Linked DNA regions of Homo sapiens. The protein of the gene in region 2 interacts with the protein of the main gene of each other region in a pairwise test. Each region holds a gene or a part of one and is shown on either strand. Other genes may lie near its edges.

Region 1 (3,809 bases), on a different chromosome or scaffold from region 2:
TCAGAGGCGGGAGACAACCTACATGAAAAGAAACCTGGCAAGGGCACTTTCATCGTCGGCTCCACCCAGTAGCCATCACTGAGGTGGATTTCAGAGAGCACCTGATTGATCCCTGCTGAGCTATGCAAAGCATGTTTGTTCTTGGGAGGGCCTTGACTCTCCCACCGGCATCTGGCATCTCACTGGCTCCTGGCAATACTGGCCTTTTCCTGTTCTCAGACAGAAAGGTGCTTCCCCTCAGCTTGGTCTAGGACTTAGGGAAAGCATTCATATTTTCTTTTCCAAAACTATTTCTATTTCTCTGTGGCCCATCCTCGCCTCTGAGTGCTCTGAGGTGGAACCCGATGCCCTGCACCAGGAGGCTCCCTCTTCCAGCCTGACTTTTGGTCCATTTCCTCCACACCTAGCTCTCCAGGCACAGGGGGCGTCAGCCTTCCCAGCCTTACCTTAACTCTGCCCACTGTCCCTCTTACAGCACGGGACGTCCTCATCGTTCTGCGAGCCCTCCCGGCTCTCTCACCCACGGAGCCATTCGCCTTTGTGTGGCCACTGTAAGCCCCACACACCTGGACTTACTCTCACAGGAAACTGCTCAGAAGCCTGCCTCCTGTCTTGGCGATGTACAAACGCCCAGGCCCAGTAGAGGCTCCGGAGACGCCCGTGCTGCGGATCCACCTTGCTGCTCCCTGACACACGGGGAGCCTCCCCTCCCTGCCATCTGTGATGCAAGCAAAGAGCCCCTTGGCAGGAAACCCAGGCTGTGGCCCTGCCATGAAGCGCCACACCAGCTGCCTGCAGCTGTGGGCCTCTGTCATCTCGCATCATCCTCATGGAGCCACGGGAAGGTAATGAGAGGAACTAGGACTGCAGTGTGAAGACCCTGGGCACACAGAGTTCTCACTTGGGTCAGCCAATTGGAAGGCAGCTGGGAGGGCCAGGAGAAGGCGACAAAGTGGCAGGGGGTGGAGGTGGGGTTACCAAGGGAGCAGGGCCCCCGCTGCAGCTTCCTCTGTTCTGGCAGGTGAGGCCTACTCCCGTGCCCTCTGGTGCCTAAGTGAGCCACGATATTGGTAGTCCAAGGTGAGCACATTCCTGATGCCAAGTCATATTTAAAAATAAAATCCAAGCTTTGCATCCCTTTTGAGAAAGACCTGGACGATCTCCCCATCTGCTCGGGTTTCATTTGGGGAACAGCGGAGAGCCACAATGGCAGGCTGCAGCCACACCCGCTGCAGCGAGCAGACACACATGGCCAGGTCTCAGGCCCAAGAGCCCGGCCGGGATGTAGATGGAACTACTCTCTCTCCGTCGCTCAGGGCAATGCCCTCTGGGCTCCTACCCTTCATAACTCCTTCTCCTGAGTCCTCCATAAAGAACCCTGGAGAATGGGGTGCCTTCACCACACATTCACCAGAGTGTCCTCTGCAAACTCGACCACTGCGGCCACATCTTATTTCTGTTAGGATCTTAAGAGCAAGGACTGTTCTTTTTCCCGCATTTATCTCTGAAATTGTCTCCACATTTATCTCTGCTCAGGACAGGGCTGGTACATGGTAGATGCTTCAGGAAATATTTGCTGAGCTAAAATGAAGGATCTGGAGTTTAGAGGACTCCTGTGGGCTTGCGCTTCAGACTAACCCCTTGGGAAGGGAAAACTTAAGTAACAGTTTCCCCTGCTTGGCTAAACCCAGGGAACAAAGATTCTGGGGTCAAGAGAGGATTCTCTGTGCAGCGCTGGGGGCGGGGGCAGGAGCTTCCTGCTAGGCACACCAAGTCTCGGGAGGTGTAGAGACCCACCTCTTGGCCAGCAGTTTGTTCATTTCCTCCATGAGGCCTCCTCCGCCACCCCCGCTGCTTGCCCGGTTGGCATCGGACTTTGAGGTCCCACTGGGACTGGAGCCTCCAGATGCGTCTTCTGGCTGAGGAAAAAGGAGGCCGCGTTTTAGATTCTGCTGCTGATGGCAGAACAGGAGCAGCAACGATGTGAGGGGATGCAGGGGACTGTGTGCGTGTGAATCCTATGGCAGCAGCACTGCAAGGGGCCTCAGGGGCCATCTGGTCCATTATTCTCCAACCCCACAGGGGAGAAAACCAGAATCGAGAGAGGGACAAGGACCAGCCCAGGTCACACAAGTCGCAGACACTCCCCAGGCCTGCAGACTCATGGTTAGTGTCTTTGCCAAGACCAGCCATGACACATGGAGGGAGGGAGGGAGGGGAGAAGAGACTATCCTGTGGGAAGGAAACACAATGTAAGCCAAAGGTCTGTATTAGAGCTATTCTTACAAGCACAGTTCTAGAACATATGAGCAAGGGTTAGGGAAGAAACAGCCGGGTGGACCTAGTTGCCAGCATACAGCTTCCTACAGTGGAAAGGGCAATGGACATAGATTCAGGAGACCCAGGCTTGAGTCCAAAATCTGCAATTTGTAAACGGTGTGACTTGAGCAAATTACTCGTGCTCTTTGTGCTTCAATTTCCTCATCTCTAAAGGGGGACATAGTTCTTGCCCCACGTGTGAAGGTCAACGTGAGGCTCAAAGGCTAACTTCATAATTTCAAAGTGCTGTCCCATGTGATTTCTCGTTTGAGAACAAGTGGCCAAGGGCCAGCTAGCTTTGGGCAGGGAAGCAGTTTGCTGTGTCTCGCAGATGCGGGAAGGAACACAAGCGCTCTGCAGATGGCACAAGGGTCCCCTCGGTCCCATTCCCACCCCGCACACAGGAGCTCTTACCCGTTGGACTCTTCTCAGCTTGGCCCCAGCTATGGCAGCGGCCAGTCCTGACATGGAGCTCTCGTCGTGGCTGGACCCCTGGGCTCCTCCGGCTGGCAGTGGGGGTGGGGGAGGTGGGGTAGCCCCAGTGGGTGGAGGTGGGACTGGGGGTGGGGGGGGCGGTGGAGGCCCACTACATGAGACGGGGGCGCTGGCTGCAGATGAAGGATGTCCTGGTGGGAGGATGGGCCCTGAAACACAACAGTGAGGCTCAGCCAGCTCCAGCACCCAGCTGGGGGCCAAGCCTGCTGCTCTCAGCTCAGGTTCCCCGGAGGAAGGACAGGGGCAGGCTGCTCCCCAAAGGGATGAGAAACAGCTCCAGGCCTGCTTCATCCAGGAAGCCTCCGCGGGATGAACTTGGCTCTGGCACAATTATTCCCTATTCTGGTGTCCTCAGTACTCCGGGGCCTGGCTGGACCCACAGGTGTCCTCTATTTGCTTAACATTCCTTGAGCCCAGGCAATTTCCTCTTGCTCCAATCATGTTTTTCCAGGGGGAGAGGAAGCTGTCTGGTTACAGTCTGTGCCTCTTCTCTTCTCTGCTCCTTCTAAGCACCTAGCACCCCCTAGGCAGAAGTTGGTCACCAAGATCCAACTGTGACTGACACTTGGGTCGTTGGGGGCCGTGGCAGGTCCTGTGGGTCCCAGGGCCGACTGGGGGCATGGGTCAGGGCGCAATGCCGAGTGCTGGGCTCCAGCATCATCCATCCAGCCCCTTCCGCCAGTGCTGCCTAAGCCTGTTTTGTGCCAGGCACTGTGCTAGGTGCTGGGTATGGTGCTGAGGAAAACCAGCCACAAGCTCTCTGCTCAGGGTGCTCACAGCCTATGAGGAACAGTCAACGAATCGCAGAGGTAAACGCAGATGGAGGACTGTGGCAAGCTGACAAGTGTTACCAAGGGCAGGCACACGGCGCCATGTTGGCATACAAAGAGGGGCTCCAGCCTGGCCAGAAGTTCATGGAAGACGGACGTCCTCCATGACGTCCTCACGGAAGTGACTGTGGAGCTGGGACACGACCGGAGAGCAGGGGTTCAGTT
Region 2 (3,750 bases):
ATGACCATATTTTAAGACTCTTATCCCAAAGTGGGAGAGTGGCCTAGTCAGATGCGTCACCCTATTCCTGATCTAATTTTTCTTATTTATTGTCTCTCTGTCTCCTCATTCTAAAAAGTTCCCTGAAAGCGGGACCCCATTGGACCTCACCTCTGTGTCCCCACTGCCTAGAACAGGCCTGGAATACAGAAGATGCTTAGTGATTTTTGAAAGACAGCATGAAAAGGGCCCTTCACCAAAACAACCTGACTTTCCAGGCCAGGATCTGAGCACTTCATTTCTCAGGAACCACTGCTTGGCACACAACACCTGGGCTGAACAGGCAGAAGTGATCCAGCCATCTTGGGCACAGGAATTCTCCTGGCGTGAGTTCCTCCTGCTTCCCAGTCCTGACTGGGCTGCTCTCCAGCTCTGGGGCAGGATTCTAAGAACCCCTCCAGGATGGTATTCAAGAACATCCAGGAGGCGAGGTCGAGATAGAGAGGGCAGCACTGTGTGTGTGTGTGTGTGTGTGTGTGTGTGTGTGTGTGTGTGTGTGATGGGGATAGGGGCAAGGAGAATAGAAGTGTGGGCAGGGCATTTCTGGTTGCCAGCCAAGATGGTGGAGAAGGGGTGGCTTTTAGAGCCTTCCCACACTGCTGTTGCTAGGAAGACGAGGCACCTGGAGGTTGTGGCTGTTTTCTCCCCCTGCAGTAGGAACACATACTGGAACAGATGTACACACAGTCAGACATGCACAGAGTAGAGAATAAAACTTGGATTTATTCAGACCGTATGCTTCCCATTTGGGGTGCAGAGTGGGGGACAGTCATGGGGACAGAGAAAGGCAGTGCATTTGGCTTCTAGGGACATGCTGATTGCTGACTCTTTGGGTGACCTTTGGGCCACCAGATGACCAGCTGAATGATGGAGATGGTGATGAAGGGGCTGGCGGCCAGGTCCTTCTGGAGACCTCACAGTGATTCCAAACAGAGACCAACGCTGTGTCCAGTTGGCTCTGTTCCTCTCCAGGGATTAAGGAGCAGATGGCTGGGAACACTCAGACTAATTAAAGAAATAAAAACTCTGGGTAGAGGGACACTCTGGGGGGCTCCAATTCAGGCAGTGGTGTGCAAATTCACACATGTCGATGCGTGGGCCAGGCCTGTGTGAAAAACATGTGTGTGTCTGTATATATTACATCCTCCACAAGCAGCTGGGAGCCCCCATCCTACCCCCACGCCTGTGCAACTCTGTGGGCCTCTTCCAGACCTTTCTTTTTCCATTTGGAAGAACTGGGCCTATTGAAAGAACTGCGAAAGGGAAATGGCCCACAGTAATCCTCTGAAGATGCCATTTCCTCTTGGTCCTTGCTCCAGTGTACAGGAGGCAGGTACCCACTTCAGTCCTGGGGCAGTGGAGGCCAGGAACAGGTGGCAGGTGTGGTGGGAGGCGGTGGGCCTCACTGGGCAGCTGGCTGGGAGTAGCTGCAGGACACCTGCACCGTCTCAGCTTCTGTCAGGTCACTGCTGAACCCAGCTGGGCTGTGCAGGAACTGCCTCAGCAAGGGGGAGGCGTGGAGCCCGAGGTGGGAGCCTGGGTTCCTGGGTGGCTCTGCCTGCTCGGTGACTGTGGTGGAAGACATGAGGACTGTGTTCCCAAACTGGTCCACCTCCTCATACTGTTCAGTCACGGTTCTCATGGCTCCATAGTGTTGTGAGCTCCCTGGCCCCGTCTGTAGCTCCAGAACACTCTTTTGCCACCCTCTGGGCAGGGGACTGGCTGAGGGAGGGGCAGGTTCAGGTTGCACAGAGCACTGGGTGATGTCCTTCTTCCCAGTTTTGTCTTGGACACCTTTCTGGTGGAGCAGGGCCTGGCCTATGTCCTGAGCCAGTTGTGTGCTTTTCACTGAGACATCAGGGTTGCCCTTAAAGCTGGGAGTCTCTAGAGGCTTCCTTGTGGCCGACTGGATGGAGATAAATGTTGGGGAGGAGGGAGAATCTCGGCTGGAAGGTAAAACCCGAGGAGGGCACAAATACTCTCTTGATGTCTCCTGCCTCCTGGTGGAAGGGGCAGTTGAGGCTGTGTGACCTCTGGCCTCTGTGTGATTTCTGATCTTGACTTGACTCTGGGCCTCAGTGTGGCATTCAACCTTGGCTTGGTTCTTGACTGCAGTTTGACCTCCGACCTCCTGGCCTGAGCCACTGGGCCTGGCGCTACTGCTGACTGTGACACTGATCTTGTGGGCACTGTGGTCTTTTGGAGGTCCCTGGAAATGGCCTCTGGCACTGGCCTCAGGCTGGAGGCTAGACATGGAGCTGAGTGCCTTGTGCACAGCCTCTTCAATGTCCAGCAGCCTTGCCAAGGTCTGTTCCTTCAGTTGAGCAACTTCCGTGCTGACCCGTGTCAGCTCCCCAAAGGCCTGCTCCACTGAGGCCTCGGGCTTTTGGTGGGCAGCAGGAGCCTGAGGAGCAGCCCCTCCCAGCTGGGGCACGGCCTCAAAGAGCCTCCGCAGGGCCTGCACGTCCACACTGCTTGCGGCCTCCTTCTCCAGGGCTTGCACCTGGTTCAGGAGGCCCTGGAGCTCTTTCTGGTTTCTTTGCAGACTGTCAGGGCTCTCAGGGGCCCCTTGGTGGGAACCTTCCATGGGCTGCTCTCCTGAGGGGCCGGGGCCCCACTGTGGTGAGGTGGGATCATGGTTGAGGGCATTGAGCTTGGGGGGCTCAGAGCTCTGGGCATTGCTGCCTGTAGCCTGATTCTTGGTGGGCCTGGGGGCCGTGGTGCTGAGGCCATGTTGTAAGCTGGGCTGGCTATGTCCACTGGGACATCTGGCCAGAGGTATGTGGCCCTGGTCTACAGTAGTGGGAACCTTGGCTGGCTGAGGGATGGCTGTATCTCTCTCACCTCGTTGGTGTTCTCTTTGCCCCACCTCCGAGGAAAAGCTGGGAGATAGAGGCAAGGGCTTGGGCAGCCTCTGAGGAGGGTGGCTCTGGGTTAGGTGTGCAGGTTTAGGGGGCAGCTGCGGCTTCTTCTTTGGGGGCATGGTGGGGTCCAGTTTTGGGGTCTTTGTCTGTGACCCTCCAGGGGTTCTCTGGCCAGCAGGGCTGCTGTGGGAGTGAAGAAGGGGGTCCTTCAGGGGCTCAGAGGCTTGCTGGATGGAGTCCTCAGCACGGTGGGCTCCAGCTGGAAAGTCAGGTCCTGTCACAGCAGCTGGGAGAGTAGGAGGAGGAGGAACAAAGGCATTATGGGGGTGCGGGCTGGCACCTGCAGCTTGGGGCCCAGAGGCCAGAATGTGGCGGCCTAGAGGGGCAGTCTTCAGGGTGGTCTCTGCAGCTTGGAGGCCCCCTGGGCAGACTTCTGCCATCGCCTTCCCTGGTGGCCCCCAGGCCATCTGTGTGCAGCCCCCAGGCTCCTCCCGCCCTGGCCCAGTACTCTGACCTGGGCCTCCCTGGAGTGGGCGGGGAGCCTGGACTGAGAGGGCAGTCTCCCTGTGCCTTGACTGGGGTTCCCTCTGAGAAAGCTGGACACCCCCAGGTGGGTCAAAGGTCCTCACGGGATGAGCGGTGTAGATGCCATCCTGAATTGTCACCCACCCCCCAGGCAGCCCTCTGGGTAGTGCTTGCTCTTCCCTACTGACCTTTCTGGGGGCTGCTGGGATCCGGGGATCACTTCCACCCCCAGGCCTTATGTTGCTTTGGGTAGCCCCAGCTTTCCGAAGACCGTCCTGGATGGGGTTGGAAGTGGCTGTTGGGGTGGGGCCCTGCTTGTGCT

The links.
Region 1: the proteins of XIRP1 (region 2) and EVL interact in a two-hybrid assay, tested with the Homo sapiens proteins (one study listed by BioGRID).

What each region holds. Positions count from the first base shown.
Region 1 is NC_000014.9:100,127,673-100,131,481, reverse strand, and holds part of EVL (ena/VASP-like protein), read right to left. Parts: intron 2,964-3,809; coding exon 2,734-2,963; intron 1,920-2,733; coding exon 1,798-1,919; intron 1,151-1,797; exon of another isoform or gene 1,022-1,150; intron 846-1,021; exon of another isoform or gene 1-845. UniProt on the Homo sapiens protein: Ena/VASP proteins are actin-associated proteins involved in a range of processes dependent on cytoskeleton remodeling and cell polarity such as axon guidance and lamellipodial and filopodial dynamics in migrating cells.
Region 2 is NC_000003.12:39,182,473-39,186,222, forward strand, and holds the end of XIRP1 (xin actin-binding repeat-containing protein 1), read right to left. Parts: coding exon 1,442-3,750; 3' UTR 743-1,441; downstream 1-742. UniProt on the Homo sapiens protein: Protects actin filaments from depolymerization. Required for correct cardiac intercalated disk ultrastructure via maintenance of cell-cell adhesion stability, and as a result maintains cardiac organ morphology, conductance and heart beat rhythm.